Regions from separate parts of the Homo sapiens genome. Here regions 2 and 3 are each linked to region 1. Evidence: fine-mapped QTL for protein levels in blood plasma. Region 1 holds a variant in brackets. A gene starts in each other region. All regions are shown on their forward strands. Region 1 holds the start of PHLDA3 (pleckstrin homology like domain family A member 3). Region 2 holds the start of ERBB4 (erb-b2 receptor tyrosine kinase 4). Region 3 holds the start of GFRA3 (GDNF family receptor alpha 3).

What was found. PIP is the chance, under the fine-mapping model, that this variant and not a neighbour inherited with it causes the effect. Protein levels are from antibody-based Olink assays in UK Biobank. Linkage for the fine-mapping came from a reference panel and not from the study's own genotypes, which makes the PIPs less certain.
Region 2: it holds the start of ERBB4, and the variant in region 1 is fine-mapped to the plasma level of the ERBB4 protein (UK Biobank, PIP above 0.99).
Region 3: GFRA3 starts here. The variant in region 1 is fine-mapped to the plasma level of the GFRA3 protein (UK Biobank, PIP above 0.99).

Annotation. Positions count from the first base shown.
Region 1 is chr1:201,468,502-201,478,604 of GRCh38, forward strand. It overlaps PHLDA3 (pleckstrin homology like domain family A member 3), which reads right to left and starts at 687. Exons shown (of 2, transcript NM_012396.5): 1 at 1-687. The coding sequence starts at 285. RefSeq lists enhancers at 1-136, 358-1,072, 587-706 and silencers at 207-516, 727-956. The variant C/T (reference allele first, on the strand shown) is at 203.
Region 2 is chr2:212,534,704-212,544,822 of GRCh38, forward strand. ERBB4 (erb-b2 receptor tyrosine kinase 4) reads right to left here and starts at 4,099. Exons shown (of 28, transcript NM_005235.3): 1 at 3,746-4,099. The coding sequence starts at 3,827. RefSeq lists an enhancer at 2,630-3,130.
Region 3 is chr5:138,270,651-138,280,759 of GRCh38, forward strand. GFRA3 (GDNF family receptor alpha 3) reads right to left here and starts at 3,971. Exons shown (of 8, transcript NM_001496.4): 1 at 3,684-3,971. The coding sequence starts at 3,774. RefSeq lists silencers at 3,694-3,883, 3,974-4,063.

The sequences.
Region 1 (10,103 bases):
GTTCCAGCCGGGATCTTCCAGGGGGCAGCGGAAGTCGATCTCGCCGCCCCCTTCGGTCACCAGCGTGAAGTAGATGTGGCGCCCGGTGCTCTCCACGCACTCCACGGCCTTGATGCGGGCGAAGCTGAGCTCCTTGGGCCGGCCGCCCGTGCCCTTGGCCTCGAAGAGCTGCAGCCCGCGTTCGGTGAGGACGCAGCGCTTC[C/T]GCTTCCACAGCTGCAGCAGCCCGCCGCTGCGCTTCTCCAGCACGCCCTCCTTGAGCACGGTAGCCGTCGCCGCCGCCGTCATGGGCGCCCCGAGGTTCGCGGAAAGCTCCAGGCTGCGGCGGGCGCGGCGCCCCTCTCGGCCCCGCAGCGCAGGATTCTGGCGCCCCGGGCTGGCAGGCCGTGCGCGCTGCCCACCTGCGCCCTGACTGCTCCGCGCACCCACACCGCGGCCCTCAGCACCCGGCTGCCGGTGAGGTGGTGTCGGTGCCCCCAGCGCGCTCCGCGCCCACCGCCCCGCTTCAGCCGGCACCCGCTCCTCCGCTCTACCCCAGCTGGCCCAGCCCGACCCGCCTCTGCCAGATGCCTCCGCGCCTCCCTAGGCCGTGAGCCCCACCGCCCGCCCGTTCTCTTGCTCCCCTGGGCTCTGTCTGCGCGCTGGGCGGCAGCTCGCGGGATGTGCCCTTACATGTTCCGCCGCTCGCCTCCTGCGCCGCCCGCCCGCAGCGCATTCCTACCCTGGCCGGCCCTCCCCTCCGCGCCGCGCACCAGCTCCGGCAGGGCCCCGGGGGCGGGGCCGCAGCGGGGGCTCAGTCACTCACTGGAGGCGCAGGGCGCGGGGCGGGGAGGGCCGGGACTGAGAGGGGGCTGCTTACTCAACAGCCCAAGCCTTCTGGCTGCCGTCTGCCGCTTCTCGGAACCGCAGCTCCCCCAGGCCTTGAATGAAGGGGGAGATGGCGGGGAAGGGAGGGGGAAGGCGCATCTCCTCGATTGGAGAGCGCGCTGCTAGCAAGGGGGTGGGCTTGCTTGGCGAACGCGCAGTGGCACCAGTTGCATGTTAGGCGTCAGACAGCTGCTGGTTACTTGGCACGCCATGGGGCCCCCAGCCTCTGCATCAAGCCCATGTTGGGTTCCTCCTCCATCGCCCGATTTCTCTGTGCAGCACCCAAGAGAGGCTGTCCATCGCTGCCTCTGCTTGGACAGTTCACCTGCTCCTACTCCTACCCCCATGCATTGCGCGGGGAGGCCTGTAGAGAGTAGCCAGTGCCAACAAAGGAGAGCTGAGGCTTGAGGTCATTCATGCCCTCCTCGTAGTGGGGGAGGAGGGACCCCCTCCGTGACCTGGGGATGCCACTGTCTGCAGTCCTCTCCACCGCACACTTGCAGGCGCCGACGCTGGACCGATGGCACAGCCAGTCCCAGGTGTAAGCGCAGCTCCAACCTTGCTCCTTCCGCTCCGCAGATTCTGTCCTCCCTCGGCCTTCCCCAAGAATGGACTTCTCCCGCATACAGAGCTGGAGGGGAACGCAGAGGGAGAGGTCTCTTTCTGTTCTGGCTAGAATATTGTGTAAACACAAGAGCTTTGCAGAGTTGAGTTCAAACCTCTTCTCCCTTGTTGGCTGTGTCCTGCCCACCTGGGGCAACTTTACTGACCTCCGTCAATTTCCTCATCTGTCGAATAGGAGGATTAATTTATTCTCATCTCATGGGGTTGTCCTGATGAATAAGTTGGATAACATTTGTGAAAGACCCAAGACAGGACCTGACAACTCTTGAGTCTCAAGAAATGTTCTTCCTCCCCTCTCCCCACTCTTATTCCCTTTAGAGAATGATGGGGGCCCTGAGATTAAGCCAGGCACTGGAAGAGGGCTCTCTTAGGTCCTCATTCTGTCCCCATCTTGATCAGTTCCTCCAGGCCCACAGTTTCTTAAAGGTCTATTCATCAACATGTTAATAATAGATTCTTACGGGAGTAATGATATATAATAATGACAGTAATAAGACCTCTTTGTACTTACACCCTGTGTTGCCATCCTCCTGCCCAAAGAGCAGAGCCTAACAGATACAGGGAAGGTCCTGTTGTGGGGATAGGAGTGCGCTCCTCTGCAGTCCCAAAGTTAGGAGATGAGAGAAGGGAACTGTCAGTGTCTCATCCATAACTCTTTATACACACACACACACACACACACACACACGTGTGACGACAACTAACTCCTAACTCCCAGAATGCCCCTCCAGGAGAGGGAATAGACAGTGGCATTAAAGAAAAGACAAAGACAGGTGTCTCCTGAGGCCCAGAGAGCAGCAGAAGAGGGAGCTCGAGGTGGCCACGGCCCTACCTGAGGGACCCACAAGGTCTCAGCCTGCCTGCCAGCCCTGCCCTCCCATGGCTCCTCCCCACCACTCCACAGGGGTCTCCTGGGTGCACCAACCTGGCACAGTCCTGCCATGATCCAAAGTTCTCTCTCTGAGGAAACAGGGCCCTAGATCAGGCTCTACCCCTAACTCATTTTTTTGTTTTGTTTTGTTTTTGTTTTTGAGACGGAGTTTTGCCCTCGTTGCCCAGGCTGGAGTGCAACGGTGCGATCTCGGCTCACTGCAACCTCTGCTTCCCAGGTTCAAGCGATTCTCCTGCCTCAGCCTCCCAAGTAGCTGGGATTACAGGCATCTGCCACCACACCTGGCTAATTTTTTGTATTTTTAGTAGAGTCGGGGTTTCTCCATGTTGGTCAGGCTGGTCTCAAACTCCCCGCCTCAGGTGATCCGCCTGCCTTGGCCTCCCAAAGTGCTGGGATTACATGCGTGGGCCACTGCTGTTTTATCTCTACCAGTTCCTCTTCTCCCCACACTGGGTCTGGGACTCATTCATGCTCTTTCCAGTTCCAGGTGGATTCACAGTTGTATGGGCTTCGTACAGAGCCCTCTCACATGTTGTAGATGCTCATGATAGACAGATATTATTATCACTGTGGGCGTTTTACCGATGAGAAAAATGAGACCCAGAGAGGTCAGATAATGTAAATGGCGTCACATGGCTTTGAAAATGGCAAAGTCCAGATGAGAATGCATGGTGGCTAACAGGGCCCAGGATCGTTTGATGATACATACCCATACTGCCCATACATGAACATCTGAGTCCACATAGTTCCTTTAAAAATGATCCAGTCACCCATACTTTTCTCTTCAGCTTACTGAGTTGCGAGGTAGCGGGCTTTTGGACACAGGAGAAGGGAACATTGGATAGCAAGAGTGAGCAGATAAAGATGGGGGTGGGGGGCCATTGGAGGAAATTTAGCAGGACATACTCTACTGCTGGAAGGGTCTTCATCAGCTAAGCATCCAGTTCCTAACACGACAACGTCTTCCTGGAGGCCTGAATGGGTCCTTGGAACCTGGAATCCTGTCCTCCAATCTCAAGACCTCTGGGACTAGGGGAGATGATTCATTCCAAATCTTTCCCTAGAACTGGCATCTTGCCTGGTAGCCACATCTGGGAGAGGCTCAGGCCCAGGCTGGATTATTTGGGCCATCAGAAGGATCAAGAAGAACTCAAAAGCCAGGGGAGCAGCGTGCAGAGAGGGCTGGTGCTGCTCCTCCCTTCCTGCTGAGGTATCCCTACCCATCCCCTGGAACAGGAGCTCTGACTTAAACTTCTTGGTTAAGTCACTGGGCTGGAGCAGTGCTGGGCCCTAGAGATACTTACCCAATTCTTTTTTTTTTTTTTTTTTTTTTGAGATGGAGTCTCACTTTGTCACCCAGGCTGGAGTGCAATGGCACAATCTCGGCTCCCTGCAACCCCCGCCTCCTGGGCTCAAGTGATTCTCCTGCCTAAGCCTCCCGAGTAACTGGGATTACAGGCGCCTGCCACCATGCCTGGCTAATTTTTGTATTTTTAGTAGAGATGGAGTTTCATCATGTTGGCCAGGCTGGTCTCGAACTCCTGAGCTCATGATCTGCCCACCTCAGCCTCCCAAAGTCCTGGGACTACAGGCGTGAGCCACCGCGCCCCATCACTTACTCAATTATCATTGACTTGTTAACTCCACATCTGGCTGATGGACAAAATGTCCCATGGTAGCAGCCCAGAGCTGGCTTCTCCCTCTGCCCACCCCAAAGAGAAAGCAGATCTGCACCGTCAGTAAATCCAAGTCCGGCTGGAACAGGCTAGACTACAAAATGGCCCCAGGGAAGAATGTGCTGGAAATGGTTCTAGCTAGGGCTGAGCCACACCACCTCCACACCTGTGTGAGAAGGAGGAAGTCCAAGTGGAGAGGAGGGGTCCCTCTGGGTGGCTACCCAGGACAAGGCGGAAAGAAAGATGGGAATAAGGCGGGTTAGAGGTAAGAATGAGACCCAGAGAGATGCAAAAAGTAACATAGCTTTTGTTTTCTATATTTACTTAATTCTTTTTTTTTTTTTTTTAGATTGAGTTTTGCTCTTGTTGCTCAGGCTGGAGTGCAATGGCACGACCTCGGCTCACTGCAACCTCCACCTCCCGGGTTCAAGCGATTCTCCTGCCTCAGCCTCCCTAGTAGCTGGGATTACAGGCGCCTGCCATCATGCCCAGCTAATTTTTTGTGTTTTTAGTAGAGACGGGGTTTCACTATTTTGGCCAGCCTAGTCTCGAACTCCTGCCCTCAGGCGATCCACCAGCCTCAGCCTCCCAAAGAGCAGGGATTACAGGCATGAGCCACTGCGCCTGGCTGTCTACTTAATCTTATATAAATTCTTCATAAATTGTTAGACTCAATCTAAAGAAAAGTGTTGAAGACAATTTATTAACAAAACAAGACGTACATTAACACTGCAAAAACTTTAAAACTAAGGATGATATCACTCCTTTGCTCAAAAGCCACCAGAGTCTTCTCATCTCATTCTGAGTAAAGCCAAAGTCATTGATGCTACCTGCAAGGCCCTCTAAGACCTGCTCTTCACTTTCTGATCTTACCTCCTGTACTTTCCTCTATCCCTGGCTCCAGCCACAGTCCTCACCATCCCTTGAACTTGGCAACCATCCTTCCTCAGGGCCTTTGCACCTGCTGTCCTCACTGTCTGGAATCCTCTCTCCCAGATCACCAAATGGTTCATTTTTTCACCACACTAAGCTGTGTTCACGTATTACCTTCTCAATGGGGTCTTCTCCCAACACTGTGTTTAAAGCCACAACCCCCTTCCATAGATGTACATACACACACTGTATCCCGTCCCTGCTCAATTTTTCTCTATGGCACATATTAGCATCCACAATTGTATTTTTCTTACTTATTGTCTATCTCCTTTACTTGTGGGCTCTATGCCAGCGGGGAGTTTGTTTTTTGTTTGTTTGTTTTTTTGAGGCAGAGTCTCGCTCTGTCGCCCAGGCTGGAGTGCAGTGGCGCGATCTCAGCTCACTGCAAGCTCTGCCTCCTGGGTTCACGCCATTCTCCTGCCTCAGCCTCCTGAGTAGCTGGGACTACAGGCGCCCGCCACCATGCCCGGCTAACTTTTTGTATTTTTAGTACAGACGGGGTTTCACTGTGTTAGCCAGGATGGTTCCAATCTCCTGACCTCGTGATCCGCCTGCCTCGGCCTCCCAAAGTGCTGGGATTACAGGCGTCAGCCACCGCGTCCAGCCTATCTGTTTTTTTTACCCCTGTGGCTCCAGCACCTAGAACATTGCCTAATACACTGTAGGAACTGAATGAATAATTATCGAATGAGAAAATGAAATGACAATGTACCTGACAAAAACTGGGAGGTGGAAAAGGATAATGCAGAGGAGGGGAAACAATCAATGCAATCTAGAGTTAATGAACTAATGAAAAGAATGTAACTGCATTATTTAAAACAATGGAAACCACTAGATGGTTAAAGGAGATTTTTAGGGCAGCAAGACTATTTTGTATGATACTATAATGGTGGATACGTGACGTTATGCATCTATCAAAGCCTGCAGAACCATACAACAAGAGTGAGTTTAAACCATGAACTTCAGTTAATAGTAAATGTATGAATCTTGGCTCATTCATTGTAAAAAATGTAGCACATTAATGCAAGATGTTAATAATAGGAGAAACTATGGGGGAAGGGTAGGTATGCAGGAACTCTGTTCTATCTGCTCAAATTTACTATACATCCAAAACTATTACAAAAATTAAGTATTTTAATTAAATACCAAAAATAAATGGTTTGCCTGTAATCTCAGCACCTTAGGAGGCTAAGGCATGAGGATCGCTTGAGCCCAGGAGTCTGAGACCAGCCTAGGCAACATAGTAAGATCTTGTTTCTCCAAAATCATTTTTTAAATATAGCCATAGTGGGGTACATGCCTGTAGTCCCAGCTACTCAGGAGTCTGAGGTGGGAGGATGGCTTGAGCCCAGGAGTTTGAGGCTACAGTGAGCTATGATCACACCAGTGCACTCCAGCCTGGGCAACAGAGCAAGACCCTGTTTAGAAAAGTAAATAAAAATTTAAAATAAATTGTTAACAGTTTCTCTAGGTAACAATGAAGAAGAAAGATAGAGACTTATTTTTTCATTGTTCACCAATCTGTATTGTTTGATTTTTTTAAATCCTGTGCATGCATTGCTTCTCTAAAAATCTAGTTAACTGCACAGTACATAAATGTTCATGCGGTGCAGCAGTTGAAAATACACAGATCTACAGGTCTTAGTAGGTTGAGATGCCTGAAATACGTTGTTTCATGGGGAAACATTACAGTACAGTGAGTTAATAAGGTATATAGCATGGCCACAATGAACAAAGTCCACCTCTGTTGTACAGGTTATATCTAACAGGATTCAATTCACAGTGATATGTTACTTATGGAATGTCCAGGATGGGGATGGGCAGTGTGAGAATGCCTGTCATTTTATGAGCATGCTTCAATATGGTTTGGATGTCATACTCATGTATTAGGCATATTTTTAAAATAAAATAAACACATAGGTATTACATAAGTTCTTGAAATAGAATTTCAAACGCAAGGGCTGGCTTCAGAGCAGGGGTTGATTTAGAGGCTTGAATGGCAGTTATTGGCCTCCAGGCATTCCCAGGATTCCCCAAGGTGGGCACATAGAGCCTCCTGATGTCGGGTGTGTACACTAGAACCGAGCAAACCCAGAGCTGAGCATGCAGCCCCTCCTGTCTCTGTAGTTCTGGAGAGAACTCCCCAACCTTGGGGAACACAAAAAAGGGGCTGGTTCCCCCACAGGACCCTGGGCACCTATTCCATTATCCCCTGGCAACTGGAGTTGGAAGGCTCATCTAGGCTGCCTCAATTTGACCCCCAGTCCAGAAAGAGGTGTGTGGCATAGACCAGCGCTTCTCAGACTGCAGTGTGCAAATGGATCACCTGGGGATCTTGCAAATGCAGATTCTGATGGAATAGGTCTAGGGTAGGACCTGAGATTCTGCACTTCTAGAAGCTTCCAAGTAACACTGATGCTGCTAGTCAACAGAACATACTTTAGATAGCAAGGGTCTAGAGCAGCGGTTCTCAAAATGTAGTCTCAGGCCAGCAGAGTCAGCATCAGCTGGGAACTTGTTAGAAATACAAATTCTAGGCTCCACCCCAGACCCGGGTTTGGAGCCCAGCAATCCGTGTTTGAACAAGCCCTCCAGGTGATTCTGACGCCCACGTGTGAGAACCACTGGTGTAGGGGAAGGAGCACTCAGGTAGGAGACAGGACACCCATGTCCTAGCCTAAGCTTGGTGACACCTTACACAATCACTTCCTCTCTCTGACCTCAGTTTCCTCATCTGTAAAATGAAGGCTGTCAAGTTCTATCTTGCAGATTCAGTGCATATTTGAAAAAAAAAAAAAAGCCTGGCTAGTTTATGGGAGCTATGTAACCCCTGTATAGGCAAGAAAAGAAAACATCACTACTCCTTCCTCAACCTGTTCCCTGGATTCCTCAGGCCAGGTAGTGCCTCCTCACCTAGATGGGGCATGAAAATGGGTCTGTTCACAGCCCTGCTCCTCCCCACCCTGCTTCTCCCTTCAGGCTTCTGCACCCACCCTCCAATCCACAGGTCCCTCACTGCTCTCCTCTCCCTGGGAGCTGGGGGCTGGGAGACCCACTCCAGCTGACCTCTCCCTCAGACTTCTCCTGACCTGCTCGCACCGCTTTGATGTACAGCCCTTTGTTCCAGGACTTTGGGGTTTCCTCGGATCTCTGTTTTTCTAAAGGGAAACAGAAGGAAAAACCCTACCAAGGTTTCAAGTCTCTGATGACTTGGGTTTTATGGGCACCATTGCGACAGACTTCAAGTGGGCAGCAACTCTGCAGCCGACCCGCCCAGGCTTGCTCCTGGGCCTGGCTCTCTCAGTGGAAATCCCCTCCCACGCTCAGCCCTTTAATCACTTTCCAGCCCAATAACTTTCCTGATTCACCAAGAATCCCTTTCGTCTTGAGAGCACCTACTGCCCCCTCTGATGGGGCTGAGTCTGGGCTTGAAGGCATTTGATCCCAGCGTGGGTCTTACAGAGATTGGACTTGTGGGCTAATGGTTCAGGTTGGGGCCTGCAGAATTTTCCTTTTTCCCATGCCATCTTGGCATCTGGGTGCCCATGTTGTAGGAAAAAATGGGCTGCCCTGGAATGAATCTCTTCCTTGAGGACACTTGACCAAGGGGCAATGACACTAGGAGGAGACTGACTGATACCCAGGAAACTAGTGGCCTCAACCAATATGCCAATAATAGCCATGAAACCCTTGACATAAAAGTTGCTTTCTCTTTTCTTCTAGTAATAATGTGCTTTAAATGCAAGTAACACTTGAATACATTTTTGTTGCAAAAGATTCAAAACATGACAGTATCTTTTCACCACCCTTCTAGTCCCCCAACCCCAGAGACAACAATCACTTAGCTTGGTTTGGGTCTTGCCAGATATTTGTTTTTACTTTTCACACATCTGCACCCAGACTAGTATAAAGCAGCATTCTCAATGGTAATGTAAGGGAGTTGGTTGAAGGATTCGTAAGTCCCCTTCCAGCTGTGCCATTTTCTGCATTTGTGGGTGGCTTTTCCCTCTCCTCCTAAATAGGAGACATTCATAGGCTCTCCCTAAAAGTATGGGGGGAGGGGGAATGCACAGAGGAAAATAGGAAAGGAAAGGTCACAGTGTCAACAGCAGTTCCTTCGAGGTGAGGAGATCATGGATGAGTTTTTTACCACTTGCCTCTGATTTTCAAATGTTTCATCATGAGAGTTATAAAGATTATTATTCGTGAGTATGACTTTGATAACAGGGAAGCTCCTATGCAGTGCCATTGTCAAGATCAGGCAGAGAAGGAGGCTGTGAGTTGTCCAGCCTGAGGCTTAGGTCAAGGAGAAATTAACAAATTGCTCAAGGCAGAGGGGTGTGTGGAGGGGCTTAGGGAGGGGAGGAAGGCTCATGGCATATTCTTGGATGTGATCTACAGGAAGATTCATAGAAAGGAACTTCAGAGTAAATCCCATTGTGTGTGAATTAAGAATTAAGTATTCTTAATTCTTAATTCAGGCCCTGGGCTAGACTTTAGGGACACAATGGCAAATGGGTGAATCAGAGTTCTCTACTTAACAGGGACTAGCAAAAGAAGGGGAGGAAGAGTTCACATCTTTAGGAATCCCACCCTACTTTTGCAAGAAGATATTCCTTCCTACTGAAGAAGACCCCAGAGTTAAGCATTAGATCTTTGACAGGCTACGATCCTGACTTTGTAGAAATATGGTCTCCATACTTGACTCGGCCTATCTAAGGTGATATTGGTATGTGTACTAGTTAGGATGGGCTAGGTTATGCTGTGCTAAGAAACTCCTCCCAAACCCAATAGCTTAACATAGCAAAGGTCTTCCCACTCATACCATATGTCCTACTTGAGCTGGCAGGGGAGGTATATCTGCTCCTTGAGATATACACATATCCAGGTTGCTGGAGGTTCCATCACACCTACTTCCACACTCTCCACAACAGGGAAAAGGGACATGAAAACTTACATCGTGCCTATTAAAGAAGTCTGCTCAGATGGCCAGGCACGGTGGCTCACGCCTGTAATCCCAGCACTTTGGGAGGCTGAGGCAAGTGGATCACCTGAGGTCAGGAGTTCAAGACCAGCCTGGCCAACATAATGAAACTCCGTCTCAACTAAAAATA
Region 2 (10,119 bases), not on the chromosome of region 1:
AGAGAATCTATAGTAACAGAAAGGGTGAATGCATAAGACAGATGATAAATAGTACTTCTATTTAAAAACCAAAGGGATGAAAGCTCATGAATACTACATATTTGAATCCACTTTGAGGAGGAAATACGATTTTCCATCAAATAAATGCAAACTCTAAAAATCAGCCAATGCAAACTTACTGTGTTCAGGTTAGAATAAAAAATGCATAAATCTTCCACAAAGTTCATGCTCTGATAAATATTCTAATGTAATTTCTTAATTAAGACACATTTCCAGTGACTAAATGAAAATATATATATAAAGCAGTAAGTGCCTTGATTTTCAACAAAATTTCACTTTCTATGCATACATGATTAAAATAAATAAAAGCAGTTGAGTTTAAGAGCAAAAAAAAGGAATACTGATATAACTGGAGTCATTTCATCACAACAGAACAGTTATAGTATTTCCAAGCGATTTGCAGTTATACTAACAGATATTTATTTAGACATATTGTGAAGAAAAAAATAACACCTTCTTCTAAAAAGCCCCCTTTTATATATATATATATGAGAATTTCAAATTAAAAAGAAAACATTGTACCGATAGATGTGCTTACAGTAAACACTTGTAAGAAAGAGAATTGATGCTTTCTTGAAAATATATTTAACACCTTTTTCACCACTTAACTTTTATTAACATTTTTCTTCTCAAATGAAAAATAACCCCATGATTTTGGAGATATAATGATGTATCTTAAATATGTACGAAAGCTATATGTACTTTTATAGAATGAAAAGCAAGACTGAGTTACCTGCAAAAAAGAAATGGGAACTGAACTTGTTCATCGTTTATCTACTAAGGTATATAAGAGTACCACCTCAATGCTACTATACATTTTCTTCAATACCAAGGCAATATTGATAATTTTCCATTATACAAGGAAGACGAATTTTAGAACCATTCCTTTGGTTAGCAAAGGCTTTATAATTGCCATATAAAGGGACTTTGGCTATATCTAGATATATCTAAATAAAATGCATAATTGAAAATGAGACAAAGTCCTTTAGAATTTCTAAAAAACATCCTCTCTAATGCTGAATTTTTTTCCAAGCAAAAGAAAAAAGAGGTTCTCTTCTGTTACAATTAAGAAATATCTTAAAGATCTATACAACAGCATCCCCCGCCCTATATTTTTATTCTGTTCACATAGAGCAGTAAATAAGGTGCATTCCTTCTGCTTAAGAAATTAGCATTTCAAAAATATGCCACTTTCCCCTGAACTCCAAGCGTGTCTAATAATGCGAGAAGCAGATTGTCTTCCCTCGTTTCCTTAATTTGTTTCATCTAAAAGCAATTCACTCAACATCTTGTCGCCCTCTGGCAGCTTAGTTTACTTATCCGCACTTAATTTCTCATTTGGACCAAAACAAACTCCTCCAAACTGCTACTGACTGCTAACCGCGAGAGGGGAGACGCGCAATATGTATTTAGTTGGGAACACACAGCCACACACATACATAGGCACAAACACACACAGCCTCACTCATACCCCAGACAGTAACTTGTTTTTATAATAGCACTGCATTAAAACCAGCTGAACTTTCCCTGCCAGGTGCGGCAGGGTGGGGGTGGGGGAGGATGAAAAACGAAGTCCCCCGGGGCATTTACAGTTTCCAATGGATCACCTTAGTATGCGTGTTGCAATTATACCAGGGATGCACCCGAGAGCTTTTCTTTGTGCGGCCCTTTCATCTGGATCACTTTGTGTTTTGAACAAGTGAGGCTCGCCTTTGTGCCCCCAGAATTTCAAGTACAGAGTCACACACGGAACAACAATGGCACGCTAATCCTCGCGCTCTAAATGGGCTCACTTGTGGGTCTGACAATTCGCCCAGGGAAACGAGAAGAGACGAAGCGAGGGCGCGAGCTAGTGTCGCCTGAGACGAGGAAGAGGACAGCTGCAGAACTAATTTGGATTACATTCCTTGCAGAAATTCTGAAAAGGGCTTTTCGGCATAGCTCAACTCGGAGCCGCACAGTTAATACCAAATTGCTGCGGACTCGGAGCGGGGTCCCCCAGTGGCAGAGGCTGAACCAGACAGCCCCCAGTAGGTCGCCTCGTAGAAATTCCTCTCGGCTAAGCCTGCATGTCGGTCGCCAATGCCTTTGAATGGGTCAATGTGCATAATCAACCCATTGAGGGAAAATATGAAGGGACTCGAAGTGGGGAGGGAGATAAAAAGAGATGTATCTAAGAGGCCGCTTGGAATGTCAAGTCCGTGTTGGTGTGATTCCGGAGGTGGCTGGAGCGCGGGACCTGGTATGCGTGAAGAATTTCGGAGTAATTGGGAGGGTGCAAACGGCCAGCACAAACGCCTCACATGTGCCATTCGAAGGTCATTTTGAAAGACTCGATAATTGTAACTTGTTATTTACTAGGCAAAGGAGGCGGCGGCGGCGGCGGCGGCGGAGCGGGAAAACTACAGCTAGCCGTTTTCTTGGTGAGGTCAGAAGGACACCCTCCGGGGGCCTAAAGCGCTCCCTATCGCCACTCCCGGGGGCTTTATCACCTCAAGCTACTTCCCACGCTCCAGTCACCATCCCTGGATGGTTTCGGAAATCTCTCTGGCTCTCCAAAAGGCACCCCTTGGCCACGTCAAGACACCGGTCCTCCTCAGACCTCTCCCGTCCCACTTTCATCCCCAGGAAACTCTAGTGTCAGAAACTTTGAGCTCCATTGCACTGCAGGTGCTGTCATTAGTCCTGCAAGCCGTGGCGGGCCAGCCCCGCCGCGCTGCCTCTCGGGGTCAATTAGCCCTTTGCCTGCCCAGGTACCTGGGGCTCGAGCTCTCCAGCAAGCAGTGGCCGCGCACCCATCGCCGCTGCCGCTTTCGCCTCGGGTGGATCCAGTGACCCGCAGGCTCGGCAGCCTGGCCGGGCAGTAAACAGACAAGTTTGAAGGACTCCGGCCAATAGCAAGTTGAACTACAGGAAGAACTCTTCCCGGAGCCAAACACGGCAACCGACGGGAAGGCCGGGCTTCTGGCTCAAGTGTGCCAAGCCTTTTTTTTTTTTTTTAAGAGGTCAGGCAGGCGAGTAAGCGCCCCTCAAGTCAATGGGGAGAGGGCTCCGGGAAGCCGGCGGAAGAGGCCCAGAACTCCGGGCCCCGGACCGAGGCGCGCCCGCCTGCTGCACTCCGGCTGCCCGGGCTGGGCGCGAGTTGCGTCTGACGCCACAAGGCTCGGGCGACTGGGGGCGCAGCGGTCGCCAGCAGCACACACAGGTGCAAAGCCCGATTTTCTGAGCGCCGCTCTCCACCGCCCTTCGGGCTCGGCTCGGGAGAGGCCCAGCCAGCACCGCCCCAGGACCGCGGCCCCGGCGGTGCGGGTTCTGCCCTCGGGGACCCGACAGGGACAGAAGAGTCTCCTCTGACTGGGGATTTGGGTCTCCCATGTCCCGAACAACAGGCGCCACCAGAAGGGATCCCGCTTAGGCTCCCAAACAAAACGCTCGGGAAAGAAAAGCAGGGGGTTAAGGAGAGAAAAGAGGGACTCAGAGTGATTTTTCACGATAAATAAAGCAAACGCACACATACAGGGTAAGTTTCAAATGGAAAGAGGGGTGACCGAAAGCCCAGGGAAGAGGCCCCGGTCAAGCGGTCCCTCCACGCCTCCCGGGATGGGTGAAGAGGGCAGGGGAGCCACTCGAGGCAGCCCCGCCGGCGGCTGCAGGTTCGGCGACCGGAGTGCCAGAAGGAACCCACCTGACTGAGAATCGCTGGGCTGGACGGTCCCCGCCGCCACGAGAAGGCTCACCCAGACCCAAAGTCCTGTCGCCGGCTTCATTTTTTGGAAGTCTCAGATCCCGTGCTGACAATTACATGTCCAAATGGCATATCCCCCTTTCGGGCACGCGGAGGAGATCCCCCAGCCGGGCGCGCGTGGGGGTGCGAGGGGGGCGGGCGCGGCGCGCGCGGTGTGGCGACTCCCAGGGCGGGCGACCGAGTCCGCGCCCGCGGGTCCAGGGCCGGGGCCCGAGGAGGGGGCGAGTGTGAGCGCGTGTGTGCGCGTGTGGGAGTGTGCTCGGTGTGTGCGCTTGGCGCTCTGGGCCGGACTGTGCAGCTATTTCCCCGCGTGAGCCTTCGCTTGCTCGCTCCCTCCTCACTTTCTCTCTCTCTCACTGGTTGGTCAACAATAAAAAAGGAAGGGGGGCGAAAGGTTTCCAAAAAAAGTTGATTGCAAAGAGGCGGTAGGTTTCCGGCCTCTCCCCGCAGCCGGGCTATGTTCTGCTCCTTCTTCAGTTTCCTTGCACCTCCAGTCCAAATCGGGAGGGGAGCGGGGCGGGGGGAGCTTCTCGCTTCTCCCCGGATCCCGTCCTTCTTTTTCCTCTCAGCTTTCCTCACACTTGTCCGGCGGCTGCGGTAATTAAAGCTCCGAGCGTCATTTCCAGCGCTCCGCGGTCTCCAGCTGCAGCCCACAGAGAAATTAATAAGACTCCAGAAAAAAAAAAAAAAAAGGTGCGGGGGGCGGTGGGAATAAAACAACCCTCCACGCAACCAGGCCGGCTCTGCTCAGCCGCGCAAACCCCGCCCATGCTCTGACCCAACTAGCCACGCCCTTCCCCCCCCCTTCCAAAGGGAAATCTTATTGGCTCAGCCACTCCCCAAAATCCTGGGCCTCCGGAGTTGGGAAAACACCTGTCAGGGAAAGGGAGCCTCTTGGTGGGGGCAGGGGAAGCTGGATTTAAAGGGCTCACCGAAGCCATGCACTGAAGCACTCGTCTTCCCTCCCTGGCAGAGGCCTGGGACAGCTGGCCTGCTGAGTGGACGGACCATTGGAGGGCCGCTTACGGAAATTTTTTTTTTTTTTAAACAAGAAAGTCAGCATTTTCTCCGTTGCCCCACGGTGCTCATCTACAGACAAGACTTTCCCTAGAAATAAAAGTCAATGTTGCTTTCAGCAAAAAGCCTCCGCCCGCAGTACTCTGCCACTCATGGTCCACAATTAGAAAGTACTTTAAAAGTGTGTACAGCAAGTAACTGGTAGCCCCTGAGGATTAGGTAGTGGTAGGGGTATAATCACCGCCCCGCCTCCCGCCCCCAGTTATGCCATCTCTCCGATTACTCCCACATTTCTAAACTGACCAACATTGAGCCAAACTAAACTTTCACATTTATAAAGGCATATCCTTTGATTTTTAGATTTTATGTTTTTTTTTCACCTTTGGAGTTCATTCTTATTAAGCAGATTCTAGTCCAAAGCCACTGATTTGATCTTAAAGGGCTAGAAATTGTCCCCAGCCTGAAAGAATTTAAGGAGGCCACATCAGAACATAATTAACCTTAAATGATTCTGTTTATTCTACAGTAGACCCAGCTTTAGGCCCCTTCCTTGTCCTCACTCTGCACATTCATGGTCCCTAATCTGGAGGTCATTGCTAGTTACGAAAGTCTCTGACCTTTTCTGAATCTAAAATATTCTGGGACTGGGTCATTTCAATGTACATATCCCTTGCCTTTTACAGCTCTGAAACCGCACCCTGGCAAGGGCCAGAATCTGCTGGGGGTAGTTATTGGTTTGCTATTTGTACAGGCATTCTATGTATGAATCACTTTCCTTTTTTGGTTTTTCTAGAAGCAGCAAATATATAAATAAAAAGTATCAGGGGAGCTTAAAAATCAAACCACCCTGCCTTTCATTTGAGACCTTGATCTCCATTTCCCACTCTCTTATCTATAGCCCCATCCCTTAAGAATTTCCATGGAGCTGAGAACAGATAGGAGGTACAGATGCCTGAAGCCTGAAGCTTTCCCTTTCTTAGACCCACAGCAAATAACAGGCTCCATGAAGACGCCCAACAAGCTGAGCGTGCGGTTTTACCAGAAGCAGCCTAGGGCAGAGAGGAACTAAGCCTAGAGCAGATGACGGAGACTTGACCAGAATGGTACTGATTGCAGCAAAACTGTGCACACTGCTCTTTGGGATTATCTTTGTTTTCTTTTCTTTTCTTTTTTTTAATTACTCTTTCTCTCTGTTTTCTCTTCTTTCATTCAATCTCTTCTCATTCCCCTTGTCTTAAATCCTTTTGAAATTCTCAGGCACCTCTCTTCCATAAAAGCTACTTCTTTTCAAAACTTACTTTCTGTCCCTAGAATGACAATTTAAATGAGAAAAACATCTTCCTTTTGTAAAAGTTTAAGTCTCTGTAGTAAAAAAAAAAAAAAAGTCTGGTTTCTGATGGCAATTATGTTGCACGAAGTGAAGGAATGGGCCAGGTGTGGTGGCTCATGCTTGTAATTCTAGCATTTTGGGAGGCTGAAGTGGGAGGATCCCTTGAGGCCAGAAGTTCCAGACCAACCTGGGCAACATAGTGAGACCTCAACTCTACCTTTTTTTTTTTTTTTTTTTAATGAGCTGGGTATGGTGGTGCACACCTGTAGTCTTAGCTATTGGGAGGCTGAGATGGGATAGAATTGCTTGAGCCCAGGAGTTAATAGTTACAGTGAGCTATGATCATGCCACTGCACTCCAACCTGGGAGATAGAGCAAGACCCTATCTCTGAAAAAAAAAAAGAGAGAAAAAGAAAAAGAAAAAAAAGACAAAGTGAATAAATGAGTTGCATATTTTCGCTTAAATTGTAGGGCAAAAACTTCATGGCCTGAATATTTTGGATTTTTTTATAGTTGTGCCAATTATGTTAGTTTTTGTTCCCCTGTCAATTTTATAGCTTTTCTATAACAGAATATCTTCTATATGCCCTGCTCTCACCCATATCTTCTAGAATAATTCTTGACAAAGGAGGATTTTCCATTAATATTCATTGGTTTAAAAAAACACTTAGTATATATTTTTGTGGATATTAAACAGCCCATACAAGGATTCACCTATTACATTACCCAACATACCCACAGTTTCCCTCTAATTCTGTTTGTTCTGCCTTGATCCCCATTTTACTCATTCTAACATTGAAACAACAATTTTAGATATGTGGCCACAGATGGGTATCTGAACAGCAGCCTATAAAATGATTTGACATCAAAGCTTTTGCCAAAAAAAGCATGATATATTTGATGGTGCCTTGTCTACCCAATCAGATTCCAGCTCAGATAATTTGAAATGTAGACAGGAAGGTAGTACCCTGTATGGGCAAGCCAAAGGATGAGAAAGAAGCCATGAGCTCAAGTCAAGAATCAGTTATTTCAGTGTCTACCCTCATTTGCTTCCCATCTCATCTAAGTCATTATAAGAAACAAATACCAGAGTAGGGAATATTTACTAGCTGATGTAGAAAGGACATGATACTTGGATTGTTAGAGGCCAAGATGAATCTCTGTATTTCTTTACTTTTCCATATAGCTTGATAATAAATCCCTATTAGGGGACCTAACTAGAATGTGTTGCTGTTACTCAGAACCTGCATAAAAATTATGTGGGTAACACAATGTGTTACTTAGCAAGCCACGGATGAATACCTGGAATTACCTGCTGAGTGCCCATTTTCCAGAAACAGCCCTTTCCTCAGTTCTACATGTTTAACTTGGATCTACCTCCGTGCTACAACAACTCCCACTCCCTGGCTCTAAGTTGGATCACTCAAAACACCAAGTTGAACCAAGTAAAATGCCTTGCTCACTGTTAATTGGATGGGACTTCCACTGAGTCCTTTATCTGGCAGTTTTTGTAAATGAAATAAAGAGTTTATATCCAGTCTTTCATGGATAGCTTTTGAGATCTAAAACTCCACATCTAGTTTTTCTTTCCTTCTATATAGGAATAACCAGGCCGTGGTAAGAATGAAGCTACTGTTTGAAAGAATCAAAATCTCAGATGGATCTGGAGAATATTCAAGCTCTTCCTGTGGGTTAGTTGTTCATGTCCCCTTTTGCCTTAAGCTAGTTCAATTTTCATTGTTGTTACCTGAAACTAGAACAGTGTGAAATGGGACTAGAACTTCTCCAACTTGAGAGAGATCATAGAGGTCATTATGCCCTTGAGAACAATATCTTGCTATGGCCCATATTCTTTTGTTTTCCTTCCAGATCTCTCACACTTTCCCTTGGTTGAAGCTGTAACCCCAATATAGAGATGGCTTTGTCCTGTGATGCTCTTTCATATCCCCTTCTCCTCTTCATTTCTTCCATTATTAACAGAATTCAAGGAGAGTCTTGACATAATGAGTGACAGAATGCTGCTGTTTGGAGAAAGGAACACATTGAACTCAGAATTCAGTGTAAAATTATTATACATCCCTGACTTTGTCCCAGAGTCTTATAGTTCATTCCAATCTTCAGCTTGTTTCTAAGACTTCCCTAAAGGTCATATTAGAGCTTGCTGCTGTAAATATTTTGCGATCGGCCATAAATATAAATTTGTGACAAATGTCAAGTAAGAAAAGTAAACAAGACTCTATTACAAACCAGTTATCTTCTCAACATTTAAAAATATATAATTATAATTTCACTTCTTGTGCCTTATCTTCCTCCTCATCTTTCTAAGTCATCTTGTGATCATGAGCAATTCAATTCATATACTGTGCCCATTTCCTCACCTTTAAAGGAAGGGCTTGTTACATCCCAAATCTAATACTTTATGACTCTCTGATTTACTCTTCACCTACTAAGTGCTTGTCAAAATTCCCATATACTTTAATTTTCTCTTACATTCCTTCTTCTTTACTCCCACTCACCCCCACACACATCTTCATCTGGGACACCAGATGAACACACCTTAAACTATCATTCTTAGCTCAGGCTGCTATATCAAATACCATTGACTGGGTGGCTTAAACAGCAAACATTTATTTCTCACAATTCTGGAGGCTGAGAAGTCCAAGATCAAGCTGCTAGCTGATTTGGTTCCTGGAGAGGACCCTCTTCTCGTTTGCAGATGGGCTCCTTCTTGCTATATCTTCACATGGCAGAGAGAGCCAGAGAGAGAGAGAGAGAATGAGATTCACTCCCCTGTTTCTTCTTTGTTTAAGATCACTAATCCGATTCGTGAAGGTTCCACCCTCATGATATAATTAGCCAAAACCCTATGTCCAAATACTATCAGATGGAGGATTAGGACTTCAAGATGTGAATTTGGGGATACACAAATATTCAGTTCATAGCAAGGCCTTAGGAAAATGTGCAGATAAGCTCACTTCTGTATTACTGAGAATTGATCAACAATTGGGCTCTTTACCACTCTTTCAGCCAAGGAGAAACTGGTAAATACCAACCAGGCTCGGCATTATGATAATCAAGCAGATGACAGACACAGTGGTGGTAGATTTTGCTTGTTATTAATAGTTTGTTGACCTAGCATTTGAAATAACACCTTTCCTCTTAACCCTCTGAGTTCTGGAATTCTCTGATATTTTGGTGACATTCAATGTTTCAAGGCCAAAAACAACCACTGAAAAAATTCAAATATGTTTTAAATGCACAAATACAGGTTAACTTAAAAAATCCTTTTGTTGCCTTAATTTAATATTCAAGGAGGATGTTCCCAAGAGTAAGCGTTGTTTTCCTTCTATGTGCATGATTAAGCTTTAATTTTTTAAGTGCTAAGGAGGAGTGACTGAACATAAATCAATCAAATCTGTTTTGCTTTTATGTCCGTTTACCAATGCCTGTCCAAGTTCTTATGGACATTTTTGATTTGTGGTTGAAACTATAAAACAATTTAAGACCTGTGGAAAGAGTAATGTTTTCCAAAAAGATTATGCAGAAAGATTTTTCTAGTAAAATATTTTTCTATTATGTATCTGTTTTATATATTTTCTTAAAACCAAGATATTGTGATCCATGTAGCTTTTTGTACTGCTGTGTAAGCTTAAAGAGAAAGAAAACCTCCAATAGCAGTTGCCAATTAAAAACTAGAAAGAAAAGAGACATTTCTCCTTTTTGCTTTTCTGTATATTTAAAACTAAGTTACACAGGAAGTTACTTACTGAGGCTATGAGAGTTGAGGTTACTTTTTAAGGTCTGGCCTGAAATCCATAACAAGATAAAGTTTACTAGTTTCTTTCTCAGGTAACATCTTATGTTCCACTTCTTTCCTTTTATATTCTTAACTCTGCAAAGGGTCTAATCATGTTATAATTAATACATCAATTGATCAAAAGAGTCTAAAATTAAATTTACTATGCAC
Region 3 (10,109 bases), not on the chromosome of region 1:
AGCACTAAAGAACTTACTTATGTAACCAAACACCACCTGTATGTACCCCAATAACCTATGGAAAAGAAAAAGTATATCAGAATTTCTCTAGGAAATATGTATTTCCAAAAAGCATATTTGATAATTTTACATGTACAAGATGAAAAAAAAAGCTTTTGAGATTTCAAAAAGTATTTAAGGAAGGTATGAGATTTTATATATTTACCAAAAGGGGAACATGGATTTAAAAAGATTGAGGAATTTCTACAAGTTTACGATGTTACTTCCGGTAGGTACTGAATAAGTGGTAAGTACACAAAGAAAAGTGGCAGATTCAAGTTCTATTGTTGTAACTGGACTAAAAATAATTTTTTTTTTTTGAGGTGGAGTTTTGCTCTTGTTACCCAGGCTGGAGTGCAGTGGCGCGATCTCGGCTCACTGCAACCTCTGCCTCCCGGGTTCAAGCGATTCTCCTGCCTCAGCCTCCCAACTAGCTGGGATTACAGGTATGCCCCACCATGCCTGGCTAATTTTGTATTTTTAGTAGAGATGCGATTTCTCGATGTTGGTCAGGCTGATCTTGAACTCCCGACCTCAGGTGATCTGCCCGCCTCGGCCTCAACAAAGTGCTGGGATTACAGGCATGAGCCACTGTGCCCGGCCATAAATATTTAACTGTACTAACTATTGAGTTGTAAACATTTTCAAAAGAAAACAATTTCTTAGTTGACACTTTACCAAGTTTGAGCAGTGATGGATTTAGGGGCATTCATCTCAACAAAGAACTTGGGGGCCACGTTAAATTTCATCTCAACAAGGTGGAACCTGTGTTTCCTGGATTGTGAAACACAGGACTTGATCCAGGGCAAAGGTCATAATTTGATCCAGTGTGCAAATGTGTCTTTTTTAGTCAGCATAGTTCCGTTCCTTTCTTTTTCTTTCTCCTTTCTCCTTTTCTTTTCTTTCTTTTAATCTCTGTCACCCAGACTGGAGTGCAGTGGTACAATCGCCACTCACTGCAGCCTACAGTCTCGACCTCCCAGGCTCAGGTGAATTCTCCCACCTCAGCCTCCCAAGTAGCTGGGACTGCATGCATGCACTACCACGCCCAGCTAATTTTGTATTTTTTGTAGAGATGGGTTTTCACCATGTTGCCCGGGCTGGTCTCGAACTCTTGAGCTCAAGCAATCCACCCACCTTGGCCTCCCAAAATGCTGGGATTATAGGCGTGAGCCACCATTCCCGGCAGTATTTTCTTTTCTGTTTTTTTTTTTTTTTTTTTTTTGTGTGTGTGTGTGTGTGTGTGTGTGTGTGTGGTTTGGTTGTTTTATTTGTTTGTTTGGTTGGTTTTTTTTGCACGTTCACAGTATTTTCTTTTTCTTTTTTTTTTTTTTGAGACGGAGTCTCGCTCTGTCACCCAGGCTGGAGTGCAGTGGCGCGATCTCAGCTCACTGCAAGCTCCACCTCCCAGGTTCACGCCATTCTCCTGCCTCAGCCTCCCGGGTAGTTGGGACTACAGGCGCCCACCAGCATGCCTGGCTAATTTTTTCTATTTTTTAGTAGCGACGGGGATTCACTGTGTTAGCCAGGATGGTCTCAATCTCCTGACCTCGTGATCTACCCGTCTCAGCCTCCCAAAGTGCTGGGATTACAGGTGTGAGCCACTGCACCCAGCCAGTATTTTCTTAAAGTTGTAATTAGTGGCCAACATTTAAAAATCAGATTTTAGGCCGGGTGCGGTGGCGCACACCTTTAATTGCAGCACTTTGGGAGGCCAAGGTGGGCAGACTGTTTGAGCCCAGGATTCAAGATCAGCCTGGGCATCCGAGATGGCAAAAACCCGTCTCTACAAAAAATACAAAAATTAACCAGGTGTGGTGGCACACTACTACAGTCCCAGCTACTGGGGAGGCTGAGGCAGAAGGATTACTTGAGTATGGGAGGTTGAGGCTGCAGTGAACTGGAATCACACCACTGAACTCCAGCCTGGGTGACAGATTGATACCCTGTCTCAAAAAAAAAATCAGATTTCAAATAAAACTATTAATTTCCAATTTGTCTTGAAAAATGGAAACACTCGGGCCCACATGTAACGGGTGGAGTAATGACTGCCCCCTTTTGACAAGTCATGCCTTTTCCAGCTTGTTATAGTCCATACCACTTTCTATTACTTGCCCCACCTCCTCATTTATACAGCCACTGCCACGTCTATTTCATATTGATTTGTTAGCAACCTGGTTTTGTAACTTTGTTTTCTGCTTCTTGGCTCATCAGAGAATGAGTAGCTACAGAATGGGTCAGATCAGGCTATGCCTCAGGGCACAAGATCCTCATTTGTTTCTCATCAGTGAGGCCCACAACCCAGGTATCCATTTTATAGTTGGATGAACAAAGAAAAGTAATGTGCACCAGGGGATGTAGCAAGTCAAGACCGAGTCAAGGCTAGAACCCAGGACTCCAGCCTCCTATCCACTTCAGAATGATTTTCAGTACATGACACCACTTCCCCATGAATCGGAGGTCTCCTATATGCTTGGCTTTAGCAGGCCCTGAGCAATGATATTTTCCACCCCCAAAGCCCTCTGTTGGTCTGTGCTCTTGAAGAGCACTTGGCTCTACATGGTACCTCCTAGATGACTGTTTTATGGATTTTCAATGAGGCTACTTAACCAGATGTCATTGCTGTCAAGTATTACTGTGGAAAATAGATCTGTCACCAACACTGCTTCATTAAACCATTTAATGAGAAAGGTGTTTAATGTTTTCCCCTGATCCTGACATGCAGCCATAACCTTTAGGATTAGTGAAATTTCCTGGGCAGTCAAATCAGACTGGTGATGTCTTGCTGCCCTGACTTACTGATGTTGGCAGGTGGACAGACCAGGGTTTTTCCTCCTTCCTTCCATATCTGTCTCAAGGCAGCATTTCTACAGCACTGCGTTGTGGACTGAGGTCTCAGGGCAGTGTGGTGGTCTCTCTGTCTCAGGAGTCCCTCCATTCAGTCTCTGGGCAGGAGCCGCATAATAAGATTCCACACACCCATACCACTCACGAAGGCCATGGGCCTTCCAGGGATCTCGGATCCCAGGCTGTTCTTCCTTGGGGGAGTGGCCTGGTTCTAAAACCAGGCCTTGAACTACATCTACAAAACATCTATTGTGGATTATTTATTATCCAAGGGGCAAGCCACTGTGCTAGACGGCTTGCAAGGCCTGCTATTGTAGAAGGTTATGAAACAAGTCAGTTTTAACGAACTTCTTTTTCTTCACCTGTACCTAGTTTCTTCCTCAGTCCTTAAAGCAGATGGAAGAGTTAAAGCCCACGTGGAGCAAATGACACTCTGTTTCTGATCTGATTCTCCCCGCCTCTTAGAGACGCTGTCTTGGTAGTGACCTGGCTGTGGGTTGTTCTGTGACTGTGTAGACCTACCTCAAAAGAGGGAAGAGGGGGGAAAAAGGGGCGAGGAGGAGATGCTTGGGTGGCCAGGCCATTGCTGGCACTCAGTCTATCTCAGTTCGTACACTGTGTTAGGTGTGACCCCAGCCCCTTGCAGGCACCCTGGGCTTCCTGCTCCAGTTCCCCTTGTTCGGCTCGGATGCACCGGGAGGCTGCTGCGCCCTCTCCGGACAGGTGCCCCGGGCCTCGCCTACACCTCACCTCCCCCTCCCACTGTACCCCCGGCCGGTGCGCGCTCTGACACTCACCGGCTGCGAGAGGCAGCGGCGACGGCGGCAGCAGCAGCAGCAACATCAGGACTACGGGCGGCAGCGGTCGCGGGTTCAGGGGGCGCACCATGGCGAGCTGTAGGCGCCGGGCTCCGCGCTCCCCTCGCTCCTCCCCTGGAGCTCTGAGAGCGGGGCTCCCTCGACCGGCACCTCCCGCCCCCGCCTCCCGCCCTCCAGCGCGACGCACACACTCTCCCACCAGGGTCCTGGGCGCCGCCCTCCAACTCCGAAGCGCGCGTCCACACCACGCGCCTCCAGCGCTGGTCCGAGGGACCGCGGGGGTGGGGGCGGGGGAGGGCCGGCGCCCCGGGAGCCGCCGGGCTTGGTGCGGAAGAGGTTGCTCTTTCCGAGGCGGCCCACCTGCTGTCTGACAAGTTCGACTAGCAAGACATTGTGGAAGCTGCCGCTGGAAACTCGCCATCTAGGAGAACCAAATATTTCTCCAAGAAAAGCACCCTTTCTCACTTTCTGGATCCCACTCACCCACACATCAAAGAACAGACACCACCACAAAAGAGATTTTGTAACAAAACTTGAACAAGCCAACACAAGGGCACTTGCATTTCTAGTATTTTTCTTAGAATTTGCACATCTATGATCTCGTTTTTTCCTCTCCTAAGTGTCTTCTAGGGTAAGATTGGGTGGTTATTAAGCTCAAGATGCTGCAAAGATGGGTCGCAGACAGGTGGAATGGCTTTGCTGGGGGAGCAGACCTGGGGCATTAGATTCCAAAATTCAGCCCCGATGGTGTCGTGAGGGAAGATGGAAGATTAAACTCTCCACTAAATAGCAGAGATTTCCTTGGACCAAAGCTCACTGAGGAAGGTGCCTGGAGAGACCATTTAGGAGCCCATCCTTTTCACATGATGAGACTTTCGGAGAGCAAGCTACTCTATCAGGATTAAACAACTAGGTAGAAACACATCTGTGCCCAGAACACAGGACGTCTACCCATAAGGATAAGGGTATTTATTGGGCCTGGGCCTGATTCCCACAAGATCCCAGGATAAAGCCAGAAGCAGAATGGCTTGGAAGAATGAGAACTAAGCAGCGCATAGAAAGAGAGAAGGAGAAGAGGGTGATGAAAGGAAGTGGAGGGTTTCATCCCCTAACCCTCTAACTTGACCCCCTCCTTACTTCCACAGCCAGCCTGGCAGAGGGCCAGCAGGGAGTACTGAGAATCGCAATATAAACCTCTGAGATTTATTGGCTGCTGCTTCTGAATATGGCCATCCTGCTGTGGCCTCTGGGGGGCATTTGCCGATGTAATCAGCCCAGAAAGAGAGTCATTCCAGCTGGGGGTGTAAATCACCCTTGGCAAAGCTAGGAGAGAGACATGTGGCCCTAGATAAGGAAGGAGACTGATGTGGCCTCTGTGCCCTTCCCTCCCTTCTCCTGCCCAGGGGGTGCTGGTTCCTGAGCTGTAATGCACTTTAAATGGAGTTTGTCCTTCGTTTTAATCTATATCTGCCCTGCCAGTTTTACAGAAGAGCTGTAAAAGTGAACATCTGGCTACTCAGCTTTTGTACAAGGCCTGTTTTCCCCCAGCTCCACCCTATCTCCATGTGCCTTTCCCAAGCCCTCCTCTCCAGAAAGGTGAGGGAACATGAAGCTGGGGGGCTACCATTAAAGGCCCCATGATGTCAGGCCCTCTACCCCATTGCCAGAGAGAAATATGCTCCAGGCACCTCATTTTCTCTCACACCTGCTATTACAGGCAGACAATCGTTTTTTGGGTTTTTTTTTTTGAAACTGACAATACTTAAGAAAGGAATTTATAAAGCAAAATGTAACAATTTCAGGCTCTTTGGGATGATAGGAAAGGGCTGAGACCCATGAACCAACAAAGATGTGAGGTGGTCAAGGGGTGTCTCCTCTGCCCTCCCCCTCCTCCAGCCCAAGCCAAATCATGTTATGGGCAGGAAGAGGGTTTGGGAAAGGAAGTTTGCTCAGGGTGCCTACTCTGATAGATACTCAGTGTCTATTCCAGGGCTGTCCCCACAGAATAGACCAAGAATGCAGTATCAAGCTGACGGGCTGGGAGCAATGACCAATCCCACCTGTAACAGGCCAGCCTTTTCATGAGAGAAAATAAAGTGTCTGGTGCATATTTCTGTCTGGGTACAGGGGTGGAGAGCCTCATATCATTGGGCCTTTAATGAGGATTGGAGAAGCTCTGCAAATAAATATGACTCCAAGACTAATATTGACAGCCCTCCAGCACACCCTCTCCACCAACCATGTCCTCTGTGACTGCCAACACCTGCTAGATAAGCAGCATTGCCCCTTGTGGACAATGACAAATGAGCCAGTCCTTTCTACAGAGATGATGTTACTCATCCATCATTCAATTCAATAATGTGTTTTGAGAATGATTATGAGCCCAGCTTTATGCTAGGTGCAAAATGATTAAGACACAAATCCTGCTCGGGGAGGGTGTTACAATCCACTGATTGCAACTCAAATGCCCAAAGACCCTGTATCTTATTCCACTTTCACTTGTAATCTCAATTTTCTCCTCTTATGGTCAGATTACATGGATTCTACCTTCTCTCAAGTCCTCTCTCTCTCCATTGAGCTTTAATTCCTGCTGCTATCCTAATCCAGGATGTTAGCAGTATAATAAATAGTTAAGACCACAAGCTTTACAGACTGCCTAGATTCAAATGCCGACACTAGCTGGATGACCTTGGGCAAGTCACTTAATTTTTCTGTGCTTCCATTTCTTCACCTGTAAAATTAAGGATAATAGTATCTATTTCACATTGTGAGGATTAAATGAGTATAGTATTTAAATGAAGGTGTAGGCTGGGCGCGGTGGCTCACGCCTGTAATCCCAGCACTTTGGGAGGCCAAGGTGGGCGGATCACGAGGTCAGGAGTTCAAGACCAGCCTGGCCAATATGATGAAACCCCATCTCTACTAAAATTACAAAGATTAGCCGGGCATGGTGGCACATGCCTGTATTCCCAGCTACTCGGGAGGCTCAGTGGGGCAGAAGAATTGCTTGAACCCAGGAGGCGGAGGTTGCAGTGAGCCAAGATCATGCTATTGCACTCCAGCCTGGGCAGTAGAGCGAGACTCCGACTCAAAAAAAAAAAAAGAAAAGAAAAAAAAAGGTGTAGCATTATACCTGGCATATAGCAAGCATCGAATAAATATCATCCCAGGTAGCATGCAGGAGTTAATTATTCTGTGTGTGAACTTGGCCAGACCCCACCACCCGACCTGCTGATTTGGAGCTGGAAGTGGCACTTTTTGCTCCTTTTGCTGAATATACTACTAGACCAGAGTGCTTGTAGGGATGGAAACAAAAAGAGCCATTTTTTATTTTTCTACCTTGTCAATTTCTTGAGGGCAGGGACTGTGTCATATTTTAACAACTGTGATACTCAGAATTGGCAACTCCAGATGCATATGTTTAAAGGAATTGGTGTTTCCTTAACCTATGCCTGAACAGAACAGGGAGAGAATCCCCCATGCCTCCTACTTTATACTCCTGATAAAGAAAGGGAAATATTCCTCCTTAATATAGTTTGGATATTTGTCCCCACCCAAATCTCATGATGAAATGTAATCCCTAATGTTGGAGGTGGGGCCTGGTGGAGGTGTCTGGATCATGGGGGTGGATCCTTCATGAATGGCTTGGGCCATTCTCTTGGGGATAAGTGAGCTGTCACTGAGTTCACAAGAGATCCAGTCATTTAAAAGTGTGTGGCACCTCCTCCCATAACTCCCTCCCTCTCTTGCTCCTGCTCTGGATATGTGACATGTCTGCTTCTCCTTCACCTTCTGACATGATTGTAAGCTTCCAGAGGCCTACCCAGGAGCTGAGCAGATGCCAACACCATGCTTCCCATAAAGCCTGCAGAACCATGAGCTAATTAAGCTTCTTTTCCTTATAAATTGTTCAGTCTCCCAGGCAAGCATGGTGGTCAGCCAGGCATGGTGGTGTCGGCCTGTAGTCCCAGCTACTTGGGAGGCTAAGGCAGAGGTTGCAGTGAGCCAAGATCATGCCACCACACTATAGCCTGGGTGACACAGTGAGACCCTGTCTCCAAAAAAAAAAAAAAGCCGGGCGCGGTGGCTCACGCCTGTAATCCCAGCACTTTGGGAGGCCGAGATGGGCGGATCATGAGGTCAGGAGATTGAGACCATCCTGGCTAACACGGTGAAACCCCATCTCTACTAAAAATGAAAAAAAAAAATTAGCCTGACGTGGTGGCGGGCACCTGTAGTCCCAGCTACTCGGGAGGCTGAGGCAGGAGAATGGCATGAACCCAGGAGGCAGAGCTTGCAGTGAGCTGAGATCATGCCACTGCACTCCAGCAGGGGTGACAGAGCAAGACTCTGTCTCAAAAAAAAAAAAAATTACCCAGTCTCAGGTATTTTTTTTCTTTTTCTTTCTTCCTTTTTTTTTTTTTTTTTTTGAGACAGGGTCTCACTCTACTGCCCAGGCTGGAGCACAGTGGTGCAATCATGGCTCACCACAGCCTCAACTTCACATGCTCTAGTGATCCTCCCACTTCAGCCTCTCAAGTAGGTGGGACTACAGGTGCACACCACCACACCTGGCTAATTTTTAAAAATTATTCGTAGAAGGCCAGACGCAGTGGCTCATGCCTGTAATCCCAGCACTTTGAGAAGCCAAGGCAGGTGGATCACCTGAGGTCAGGAGTTTGGGACTAGCTTGACCAACATGGTGAAACCCTGTCTCTATTAAAAATACAAAAAAATTAGCCAGGCATGGTGGCAGGCGCCTGTAATCCCAGCTACTTGGGAGGCTGAGACAGGAGAATCACTTGAACCCGGGAGGCGGAGGTTGCAGTAAGCCAAGATTGTGCCATTGCACTCCAGCCTGGGCAACAAGAGCAAAACTCCATTTTTTTTTTTTGAGACGGAGTTTCGCTCTTGTTGCCCAGGCTGGAGTGCAACGGCGCGATCTCGGCTCACTGCAACCTCCGCCTCCCAGCTCTCAGGTTCAAGTGATTCTCCTGTCTCAGCCTCCCAGGTAGCTGGGATTACAGGCACATGCCACCATGCCCGGCTAATTTTTGTATTTTTAGTAGAGATGGGGTTTCATCATATTGGTCAGGCTGGTCTCGAACTCCTGACCTCAGGTGAGCCGCCCGCCTTGGCCTCCCAAAGTGCTGGGATTACAGGCGTGAGCCACCGCACCCAGCGAAACTCCATCTTAAAAAAAAAAAATTCTTCGTAAAGACAGGGTTTCACCATGTTGCCCAGATGGTCTCAAACTCCTAGGCTCAAGTGATCCTCCAGCCTCAGTTTCCCAGTGTTAGGATTACAGGGTATTTCTTTATAGCAAAGGAAGAATGGCTTAATACATTCCCTTCTCTATGGCAGAGGTCACCCAGGTCCTGGGCTGAGATTGACAAGAAGCAATTGCAAAAAAAAAATTTATGTATATTTTTTGAGACAGAGTCTCCCTCTGTCACTTAGGTTGGAGTGCAGTGGTGCAATCTCAGCTCACTGCAACCTCCACCTCCCGGGTTCAAGCAATCCTCCCACCTCAGCCTCCTGAGTAGCTGGGACTACAGACATGCACCACTGCACCTGGCTAATTCTTAAATTTTCTGTAGAGACAGAGGTCTGACTATATTGCCCAGGCTGGTCTCAAACTCCTGGATTCAAGCAATCCTCCCACCTCAGCCTCCCAAAGTACTGGGATTATAGGCTTAAGCCACCGCACCTAGCCCAAGAAGCAGGTTTTTGTTTGTTTTTGATACAGAGTCTTGCTGTTGTCACCCAGGCTGGAGTGCAATGGTGTGATCTTAGCTCACTGCAACCTCCACCTCCCAGGTTCAAGTGATTCTCCTGCCTCAGCCTCCTGGTAGCTGGAATTACAGGTGCCTGCCACTACTCCTGGCTAATTTTTTTTTTTTTTTTTTTTGAGACAGAGTCTCCGTCACCAGGCTGGAGTGCAGTGGCCCAATCTTGGCTCACTGCAACCTCCACTTCCTGGGTTCAAGCACTTCTCCTGCCTCAGCCTCCCGAGTAGCTGGGTATTTTTAATAAAGACGGGGTTTCACCATGTTGGCCAGGATGGTCTCGATCTCCTGACCTCGTGATCTGCCCACCTTGGCCTCCCAAAGTGCTGGGATTACAGGTGTGAGCCATCATGCCTGGCCTGTTTGTATTTTTAGTAGAGATGGGGTTTCACCACATTGGCCAGGCTCCTCTCAAACTCTTGACCTCAGGTGATCCACCCTCCTCAGGCTCCCAAAGTGTTGGGATTATAGGCATGAGCCACAGCGCCCAGCCTCGAGAAGCAGTTTTTAGCTCAAAACATTTCTGTTCAATATTTCTTTACCTCCTGATGAATAAATACCAGTGCAAGGACACCAATGCCGAGCACACCCCCTACATAGCCTCATACTGAGGTCT